Linked DNA regions of Homo sapiens: region 2 is linked to region 1. The links come from fine-mapping of genetic effects on gene expression. A gene starts in region 1. The other region holds a variant in brackets. All regions are shown on one strand. Distances are from middle to middle. Region 1 holds the start of MPZL3 (myelin protein zero like 3). Region 2 has its middle 17 kb from the start of MPZL2.

Evidence for each region. PIP is the estimated chance that this variant, and not a neighbour inherited with it, causes the effect. A credible set is the group of variants that fine-mapping cannot tell apart.
Region 2: its variant is the best candidate, but not a certain one, in a credible set for the expression of MPZL3 in monocytes (Quach 2016, PIP 0.57).

The regions. Positions count from the first base shown.
Region 1 is chr11:118,249,313-118,254,703 of GRCh38, reverse strand. It overlaps MPZL3 (myelin protein zero like 3), which reads left to right and starts at 2,339. Exons shown (of 6, transcript NM_198275.3): 1 at 2,339-2,482. The coding sequence starts at 2,410. It overlaps MPZL2 (myelin protein zero like 2), which reads left to right. Exons shown (of 6, transcript NM_005797.4): 6 at 1-1,288. RefSeq lists enhancers at 1,897-2,457, 2,807-2,856, 2,458-3,019.
Region 2 is chr11:118,278,234-118,283,624 of GRCh38, reverse strand. No RefSeq gene overlaps it. Among named protein-coding and RNA genes, the nearest start is that of MPZL2, 17 kb to the right of the region's middle. The variant T/AT (reference allele first, on the strand shown) is at 2,388.

The DNA.
Region 1 (5,391 bases):
TATGAGACACATCTTGTTTTACTGAATTTCTTTCAATATTCCAGGTGATAGATTTTTGTTGTTTTGTTAATTAATCCAAGATTTACAATAGCACAACGCTAAATCACACAGTAACTACAAAAGGTTACATAGATATGAAAAGATTGGCAGAGGCCATTGCAGGATGAATCACTTGTCACTTTTCTTCTGTGCTGGGAAAAATAATCAACAATGTGGGTCTTTCATGAGCAGTGACGGATAGTTTAGCTTACTATGTTTCCCCCCCAATTCAATGATCTATAACAACAGAGCAAAGTCTATGCTCATTTGCAGACTGGAATCATTAAGTAATTTAATAAAAAAATTGTGAAACAGCATATTACAAGTTTGAAAATTCAGGGCTGGTGAAAAAAATCAACTCTAAATGATGATAATTTTGTACAGTTTTATATAAAACTCTGAGAACTAGAAGAAATTATTAACTTTTTTTCTTTTTTAATTCTAATTCACTTGTTTATTTTGGGGGAGGAAGACTTTGGTATGGAGCAAAGAAATACCAAAACTACTTTAAATGGAATAAAACCAACTTTATTCTTTTTTTCCCCCATACTGGTAGATAAAGCAAACTTTATAAGTGGGCTATTGAAAGAAAAGTTACAAGCTTAAGATACAGAAGCATTTGTTCAAAGGATAGAAAGCATCTAAAAGTTTAGGCTCAAGATCAATCTTTACAGATTGATATTTTCAGTTTTTAATCGACTGGACTGCAGATGTTTTTTCTTTTAACAAACTGGAATTTTCAAACAGATTATCTGTATTTAAATGTATAGACCTTGATATTTTTCCAATACTATTTTTTAAAAAATTGTATGATTTACATATGAACCTCAGTTCTGAAATTCATTACATATCTGTCTCATTCTGCCTTTTATACTGTCTAAAAAAGCAAAGTTTTAAAGTGCAATTTTAAAACTGTAAATTACATCTGAAGGCTATATATCCTTTAATCACATTTTATATTTTTTCTTCACAATTCTAACCTTTGAAAATATTATAACTGGATATTTCTTCAAACAGATGTCCTGGATGATGGTCCATAAGAATAATGAAGAAGTAGTTAAAAATGTATGGACAGTTTTTCCGGCAAAATTTGTAGCTTATGTCTTGGCTAAATAGTCAAGGGGTAATATGGGCCTGTTGTTTAGTGTCTCCTTCCTAAAGAGCACTTTTGTATTGTAATTTATTTTTTATTATGCTTTAAACACTATGTAAATAAACCTTTAGTAATAAAGAATTATCAGTTATATAATTTGTGTATATACATATCTAGAAGTTCTACATTGCAGGAAAAACAGATGGATATATATTTAATCTTTACCAAAAAGTTTTCTTAGTAGAGACAACCTGCAAGTCAATAATGGATACAGTTAGTTTCTAATGGGTAAACAGAAGTATACGGATTTCCACAGAATTTTCACACTGTTTTGGATAGCTGGGAATTGGGCATAACAACACTACTTAGTTTGAGGGCTCTTTCAAAGAAAAGTATCAAAGATTCTATTTAGTACTTTGCATTACACTTTTAATAGGGAAAACTACTGGCTTTCAAGTCTAGTAAAGGAATGGAAATTGAAAAATGGAAACTTATTAATTCTTCCCCAAAGCGAAAGCATACTTTTATTCTCCTCCTGCTTTCATTGACATGTGGCAATTTCCAGGGAAGAGGCTTACTGATTATTAAAGCAGTGTACTTATTGTACCATCTCTTTTTCAGAAGTATGTGACGCCATCTCACTTCAAGTACTGTGATAACATAACTTTCTTACTTTTCCAACCAAAGACACAGAAATCCCAGTTCCTCTTTTCCTCTAATACAGGCTGTAATGATTTGATCATCATTGCCACCGCCAAAAGTAATTTAATAAACACCCAATTTTGGAGGCTGCAATACTTACACTAAAAAGGACACCAACCAATGAGGCTTGTGGCACATATCACTACAAGCACCTAATATATATTTATCTATACTGTATGATCTCCCAGGTGTTTCTGAACTCTAAATTTACAGTAGTGTATTCTGAGAACCTTCAACTAAATCTCGAGACGTAAAAACGATGTCTGACATGCAGTCAGAGCATCAAAATTATTTAGTTCTGCAGAATTCCATAAAAACAAAATTGTAATTATTCCAAGTCCGTAGCCTACTTCATTTTCAAGCAAAAGAGAGCATTTAGCTCCCGCCTGAAAGTTAATAAATCTCTGGTCAGTGAAACCAGGTGTGGTTCTGGAAAGAAGCCAGGTTCCTATGGTAACTTCGGATCGCCATTTAAGTTGTCTCTCGGCCTCCTGCTCTGACGTCACTTCCGGTGTTACCTGTGTCGTTACCGGGAGCTGTAAACAAGGTGTGCAAGCATCTGAAGAGCTGCCGGGATGCAGCAGAGAGGAGCAGCTGGAAGCCGTGGCTGCGCTCTCTTCCCTCTGCTGGGCGTCCTGTTCTTCCAGGGTGAGTGCTCCGGCTGGCTACGCTCCACTTCCGGCCGGGGGGTTAGGGAAGATGGTCGCTTTTCCGGTTCCGGGTAGGGGGGTCTCCAGAAAGCCCCCGCATAGCTCTGGGAAGGAAGGAGGGAGGGAGCGGGACGTTGGGACGATGTCATCACCACCCCGTTGAGGATAGTTGGTATTTTGTCAGTCCTTTCCTGAGCTTTGGGAGCTTTTTCACCTTGCGTGACCTGTCATTGTAGTTTGGTGATAGCATACTTGATGGAACCACAAAGAGCTCTGGCTTTGGGGGCACCCGGTGTTATTTTGTGGTGTTATTATCAGTGGTTGACCGCTGTCGTTTGGGCGCTGTATACCCTGATTAGAAAGAAAACAGTTCTAGCATTCAGTAGTTTGCCCCAGTAGTTTTGGGAAACAAAATCATGACAGTTGGTAATTTTATTTTTTGTAGGTGATTATTGTAGTCTATAAAATGAAATATTTGCTAGTCACAGAAGGGATGTGATGTGATTCGTTATAGAGAAGCATATCGATGAAAAAGTAACTGCTTTAGCATTTTCATAACTTTTTTTAATACAAGAAAGAGCATATAAATTCTGTTAAAATTTATTAAGTAATATCAGAAGTAGGGTATTCACACTGACATTCACATCTTAAAATTAGGTGAGTTTTGCTTTCATATAATTTTCAAATTGCATAAATTTCAATCCAGCCTAATTACCTTCATCTTAAGGTACAATTATTTCCTGGATTTTGTGTATGTGTGTCTTCCTGGGAAATAAAATATTAGTATATCTAGTATTAGAGTGAATTGCTAAATTTATAAAATTTCCTTGAGGGTAATGGGGATTTCTGAAAGAGATATTTAATATTATATAAATATAAATAGTTTAATATAAAGACTTCAGATGTCCTAAATCTTAGCAGTTAAGGCTGGAAAGTTTTTAACTGGTGACTAATATTCATGTTGCCAGCACACCCCCGATCCCTCCCAGCTGCCTGTGTCATCATAAGTCTCCAGTTTTTAAGCTAAATTACTTTGCAGTATGATATTTAGGCTGGCCTACTGTCACTCCTAATAAACCCAGTCCTCTCTCTCTCTCTTTCACACACACACACACACACACACACACACACACACACACACGAGAAATATTCAAATATTGTCTTATTGAGAAAAAAAATCTGGAAATGGTGTTTTCTTAAATCTAATGTCATTTTGCTTTGAAGAGCATCTGTCAAGTCCAGCAGACCATATAATTCAATCAAACATTTAAAGTTGATTTTACAATCTCTATGTACTTGTGGAATAGATTTTTTGCCTTTTAAAAAATAACTGGTGGCAGGGTGTGGTGGTTCTTGCCTGTAATCCCAGCACTTTGGGAGACCGAGGCAGCTGGATCACCTGAGGTCAGGAGTTCGAGACCAGGCTGACCAACATAGTGAAACTCCGTCTCTACTAAAAAATACAAAAAAAATTAGCCAGGCGTGGTGGCGGGCGCCTGTAATCCCAGCTACTCGGGAGGCTGAGACAGGAGAATCGCTTGAACCCAGGAGGCAGAGGTTGCAGTGAGCTGAGATCTCGCCATTGCACTCTAGCCTGGGCGACAAGAGAGAAACTCCGTCTCAAAAAACAAAAACAAAAACAAACAAAAAAGAAACAACTGGTTTATCATATTATTCACATGCCATACAATTTACTGTCTTAAAGGGCATAATTGAATGGTTTTTAGTATATTCACAGTTATGCAATAATTACCACTATCAATTTTAGAACATTTTCATCACCCCAAAGAGAAACTTGATACCCATTAACAATCACTCCTCACTCTCCATTTCCCTTAGCCCCTGGCAACCACCAGTCTATTTTTTTGTATCTATTGATTTGCCTATTCTGGACATTTCATATAAATAGAATAATATCTGTAATCCTAGCACTTTGGGAGGCCGAGGTGGGTGGATCATTTGAGGTCAGAAGTTTGAGACCAGCCTGGCCAACGTGGTAAAACCCTATCTCTACCAAAAAATACAAAAAAAAAAAAAAAAAAAAAAAAAAATTAGCCAGGTGTGGTGACATGCCCCTGTTATCCCAGATTCTTGAGAGGCTGAGGCAGAAGAATCACTTGAACCTGGGAGGTCGGAGTTGCAGTGATCTGGGATTGCACCACTGCACTTCAGCCTGAGCGATGGAATGAGATCCTGCCTCAATAAATAAATAAATAAATAAATAAAAATAAAGTAAATGGAATTACACAATATGTGCTTTTGGTGACTGGCTTTTTTCACTTTGCATGTTTTCAAGGTTCATCCATTTGTTTGGTGTTTTAAATCTTATGTGGTTGAGTTTGGTTTCATGTCAGTGTTTATTTGCCTTTTGTTTTCAAAGATAAGACCACTTAAATTATTAGATTATTTGAATTCTCCTTAAGTTATAAGTCTGGTCCTGCTATATCAGTTATCTAAGTATTTAGAAATGGTAGACTAGGGGACCTAGGTTTCTTAAACTTTTCTCTCTTTTACTTAGGTGTGCAATATGAATAAAATATCAGTAGATTTGTATTTTAGAAAATGGGGCATACAAGATTGGGGGCTTTATTGACACATTTAATTCTTTCATGTGTAAAATTACTTATGTGAAAATGTGATTTTCTTGTTTTTTCCCCAGACTAAAAAGTTTTTGTTAATTATTATGAGTATTTCTATAGTTGGCTGTTTTTACCTGGCAAGAATGCTTTTCTGCTCAGATGAAGAGATAAAGGCATTAGGCCTGGGATGGACATTTCTGAGTGAATTAATGTTGGATTGGTATTTTTTTTATGAGTGGAAGAGACAAACTGTCTTACATCCATTGGTTTTAAAACATTTTTTAATTTCAGTATATATATGTAGAGAAAAGTACACATGTCATAAGCC
Region 2 (5,391 bases), 29 kb before region 1:
TAATAATAAACAAGCTTGAAATGTTGTGAGAATTACTAAAACATGACACAGAGACACAAAGTGAGCACATGCTGTTGGAAAATGATTTGCTCTACATGGGGTTGTCACAAACCTTCAATTTGTAAAAAACACAATACCTGCAAAGTGCAATAAAGTGAAGTGCAATAAAATGAGGTCTGCCTATACAGCATAAAGCAGTAGATGAGTCACAAAAATAATTTAACACCCTCGTAGCAGTGTATCCTTAATGCCCAGATTGTAGGTTCAAACACCATTTCCCACTAAAAGAAATCAGGGATCCTTGAAGAATTGCGGATGATTTTAAGTCTATGGCAAGAAGTGTTCAAGATGAGCCTGGAACATCTCGTCATATGGGTCAAAAGGACTGTCACATGAGGAATTACCTTGGTGCAATGATAACCTTCTAACATATTACATAACAAGCTATCCCAGAGGTCACAGAACAGAATGGCTCACAGACAAAATTACGATCCTGAATCACTTGGTTTATCAACTCAATTAAAATGTTTAGTAAGAAGCAATGGAAAAGAGATGAGGAAGGTTAACACCCTTAGCACAGGGTGGAAGAAGTACCCTATGTGAGTTCTGTGTTATGTAACGCTCATATGCCGAATCTTTCTATTGCATCAGCCTTCCCCACCGATGGTTACAAGGACCTGAGTTGTGGATGAGCAAGAGGACTCAGCAAATTGACTGGGCCTGGAGCCCAAACACTCTTGCTCTATTGTAGGAAGGCAAGGGCAAGAATCCTTGGCTACAGCTGTAGCTTGCCGATTACCCTGTTGGGCAGCTATGGGTTTTATCTGCATATCTCAGGCAGAGGATGCAGATTGCCAGAATGGGTGTCACAACGGGATGGCTGGTTTAAATTTTTGTGAATATTCAGTGCCTCATAAATATTTGGTGTTTCCTGTGTCTTGTGTCTACTTGGTCTGTCCATCCCTTCTTATATCAGCATAAATCTGCTCTACTTACCAAGGTCTAACACGTCTTACAAGCTACTTGCTTCTACACTTAATTTCATCTAGTCTCCATATTTGTTTCCTTCTCTTACTTTCTATAGCAGACTTTAACATTCATAAAGAATGCAGCAAACACACCTTGCAAGGATGCACTTGAAGCTGGAAGAGCCTCTTCCAACTTGAAGAGGCTCCCGATGGCCAAAGATGAGAAAATTTGAGAATCAATAAGAATAATAATGATGTTGTTTGAAACACATCAAATATATTTAATGCTATGTTTAGCTTTCAATTTAAAGTGAGAGGTGTGTTAACTACCTTTCACTTGAACACTTAGAGGCCATTGTAGGGTTTAATTGGCCTAATTTCAATATCATGTGTCTCAGGGAATTGGGAGGCCTGTGAAGAGAGACTGGGGAATGGCTGGTCATTATGTCACAATGTCATTATGTGTAATAACACTAAAAACAAAAAACTCTCATTGCTAATCATTGGAAGATGCTAGTGAACCAATGCATTGTGCTCAAAATCGATCTTTTCTTTTCTTTTTTTTTTTCTTTTGAGACGGAGTCTAGCTCTGTCGCCCAGGCTGGAGTGCAGTGGCTCGGTCTCGACTCACTGTAAGCTCCGCCTCCTGGGTTCACGCCATTCTCCTGCCTCAGCCTCCTGAGTAGCTGGGACTACAGGCGCCCGCCACCACGCCCGGCTAATTTTTTGTATTTTTAGTAGCAACGGGGTTTCACCATGTTAGCCACGATGGTCTAGATCTCCTGATCTCGTGATCTGCCCTCTTCGGCCTCCCAAAGTGCTGGGATTACAGGCGTGAGCCACCATGCCCGGCCTCAAAATCGATCTTTTCTATATGAACCATCCCAGTGAGTAGTCACTTTGTAGATGAGGGAGTTTCTGTTTCTAGAAATAGTCTAGCTAATAAATAAAGTAGGGATGATATGATTAGAAGATCATCACTTTGCACACCAAATGAATGAATGGATCTGGGCACTGAGCATCAAAGGCTACTGACATCAAACACACAAAGGAGACAACCACATACTATATTCCTCCTGGAGGAAGACCACAACACTGCCTGTGAGGTAGTCTTGCTTTAAAAAAGTCAGATTTCAATCTGATTGAGCCTCAGTTCAGTCCACATCAATAGCTTTCAAGGAGTGGTCAGCATCAAGCACACAGGAAGTTGCTGGAAATGCAAACTTTTGGGACTTTCCCAGACCAGAATCAGAAACTCTGAGGGTGGGGCCCAGCAACCTGTTGCGACAAATCATTCAGGTGATTCTGATGCTCACTAAAAATGGAAAACTACTGCTTTAAATACAATACCAGTCTATAGGAAATACAGAGGAACATATTAAACAACACCTTCGTGATGCAGGCAAAAAAAAAAAAAAA[T/AT]ACTGTGGAAAACCATGAGACAAATGACTCAATTTCTTTAAATGTAAATTGCAAGGAAACAAAAAATAATAAGGAATAATAATAAAAGATAATAAGGAACCCATAGATTAAGAGAGATCTAGGAAACATAAAGACCAATTGCAAATTTTAGACCTTATTTGGACCTTCATTCAAATAAACAAATTGTAAAAACATGTTATAACATTTATGAGATAACTGGAAATTGTAACACTGGTTATTTGACATTTAGGAAATGCTAATTCTCTTAGAATATGATAATGGAGACTGGATATGGTAGCTCAGGCCAGTAATCCCAGCGCTTTGGAAGGGCGAGGCAGGAGGATTGCTTGAGGCCAAGAGTTCAAGACCAGCCTGGGTAACATAGACAGACTGTTTCTACTATAAGATAAAAAAAAAATTAGCCAGGGATGGTGGTGCACTCCTGTGGTCCCAGCTACTTGGGAGGCTGAGGCAAGATAATTGATTGTGCCATGCACTCCAGCCTGCGTGACAGAGCAAGACTCCATCTCTAAAAATATAAAATAAAATATGATAATGGTGTTGAAGTATTTAAATAATTAAATGGGGGGGGCATTAGACTGAGGAGGCTCTAACTAAGTTCCTACTAAGCAAGCTAAAACCTAACTCAGTCTCATTTCCTGTAAGCAGTTAATTTAAAAGAAACTTAGCCAATCACAGAAGGCCATCTGGGCATTAGTTATATTGTCTTTAACTTCCTATTGGATAGTCTAAATAAGGAAATTCTGGAAGTTTAACCAATCAAATAATTTCTTTGCTCTGCTTCTGCATTTACCCTATTAGAGCCTTCCCCTCTTGCTCCGTCCTCGAAGCCCAAACCATTTCCAGTTTGGAGCAGCCTGATCAATGAATTGCTGTTTGCTCAAATAAACTCTTCAAAGTTTTAAAGTGTGCCAAAGTTTATCTTTTAACAGAAGTTATATTTATGGGCAAAATGATATGGTATCTTCAATTTGCTTCAAAATAATATTGGGTGGGTAGATAAAGACATAAATGACCATGGGTTGCTGATAATAAGGGCTGGGTGATAGGACATGGGGTTTGTTATATTATTTTATCTACATTTGTATATGTTTGAAATGTTCCATAGTAAAAAGCAAAAAAAAAAAAAAAAAAATTATTGACTTTGTGTGAGCCCATGAGAAAAGCTTTGGATTTAGAGACAGAACTCCCAGATTCAGCCCTAATTTTTCCATTTATTTTCTAGCCAGAGTGAGCTGAGTAACTGGGTAAACTGTTTCATCTCTGTCATCCTCATTTTCCTTATCTAAAGTAGATGAGGAAAATTGGGTAGAATAGAATAGTGAGAATTAAATGATACAATGTATTCAAATGCTTTGCAAAGAGCTTTGCAGATGGAAGGTTCTAGTATCTGGGTTGTGAATTCCATGAAGCTAAATATGGCATCTTCATATATTTTTTTTCAGCACAGTGTTAGACATATAACAGGTGCTCTATAATTATTCAGCCTTAGTTTTTAAATTCAATTTAAACATTATTTGGTAGATGAATGAATGGGTATATTCCAAATCCTAGGTTTCAGCCCAACATAGTACCATTCTTGATCATTAACTTAGTAATTAAAACTTATAAAGAGTGAATAAAAGTAGGAGACACATTCTGACAATTAGTATTTAATTAGTGTTTATTATTTAATCGACATTATCAATTAGTTTTAATTTAATCATGTTCAAATAGAATATATTATGATACAGATTACATTTGCTCCTTTCCTTTCATGGTTGCACCTAGGCTGAAAACAGAGGAAGGTGGGAAGCCCTTGTTCAGTGTAGATATCCCAGTCTTAGAGATGATCTTCACTTAGATGCAAAGATAAGCCAAGTTAAAGCTGGGACTGAGTTTTAGGTTGTCACTTCACTTCCTTAGTAAACTTCTTTAGGTTCCAACAGTGGGAGCTCCATACTGCTTAGCATCACTGAGGTGTGGGGCACACAGATGCTTCAGTAAGAATGCATTCACTCATCCAGCAAATGCGTATTGAGCATCTACTATGTGCCTAACAGTTAGGTGTTGGGGATACAGAGACATGAACCCTGCCCTGGAGGGATTCAGTCTACAGTAGAGGCAGACGTGTAAACAAGTAATGACCATACAGTGCAGCAAAGGCTATAAAAAAGGTGTCCCAAGGTGCTAAGGGAACTATTAACTCCAGGTCCAGGGGACAGGGAAGGCTTCATGGAATGTGAACTTAATTTTGAAAGGCAAATAAGAGTTGATCAGCTGGATAAAGTAGACAGAACATATGCACAAATATATATGTGGAGGTAAGAACAAGTATGTGATTAGTTTGGCATAGTGATGAATAAGGCTTAAGGAGCCTGGAAAGTGGGGAAAGAGGGGCTGGTTAGTTGACAGAGGCAGATCATGAAAGGCCTTAATCTGTGAATTAAGAAGAGCCAGTTAAGGTATACATCCAGCTTAATAAGATAAGAGACCTTAAAGTAAATGGAAAATTATACCTTTATTATAGTTATGCACAAAACAGTTTTTAAAGAGGTTTTTTTTTTTTTGAGACAGAGTCTTGCTCTGTTGCCCAGGCTGGAGTGCAGTGGCGTGATCTCGTCTCACTGCAACCTCCATCTCCTGGGTTCAAGCAATTCTCCTGTCTCAGCCTCCTGAGTAGCTGGGACTACAGGCACACACCACCATGCCCAGCTAATTTTAGTATTTTTAGTAGAGACGGGGTTTCACCATGTTGGCCAGGATGGCCTCGATCTCTTGATCTAATGATCCGCCCACCTCAGCCTCTCAAAGTGCTGGGATTACAGGTATGAGCCACCGATCCTGGCCTAAAGAGCTTTTAAAGAGAATCCTGTCTTTTAAAGGATCCTCAGGGACCATTTATGCATTTCACAAGTCATCATACTTATGATTTTATAATCAGTGCCTGGTTTGGTCATTCACTTTCTTACTTTCTTTGGATTTGATCTACATGACTTTTAAA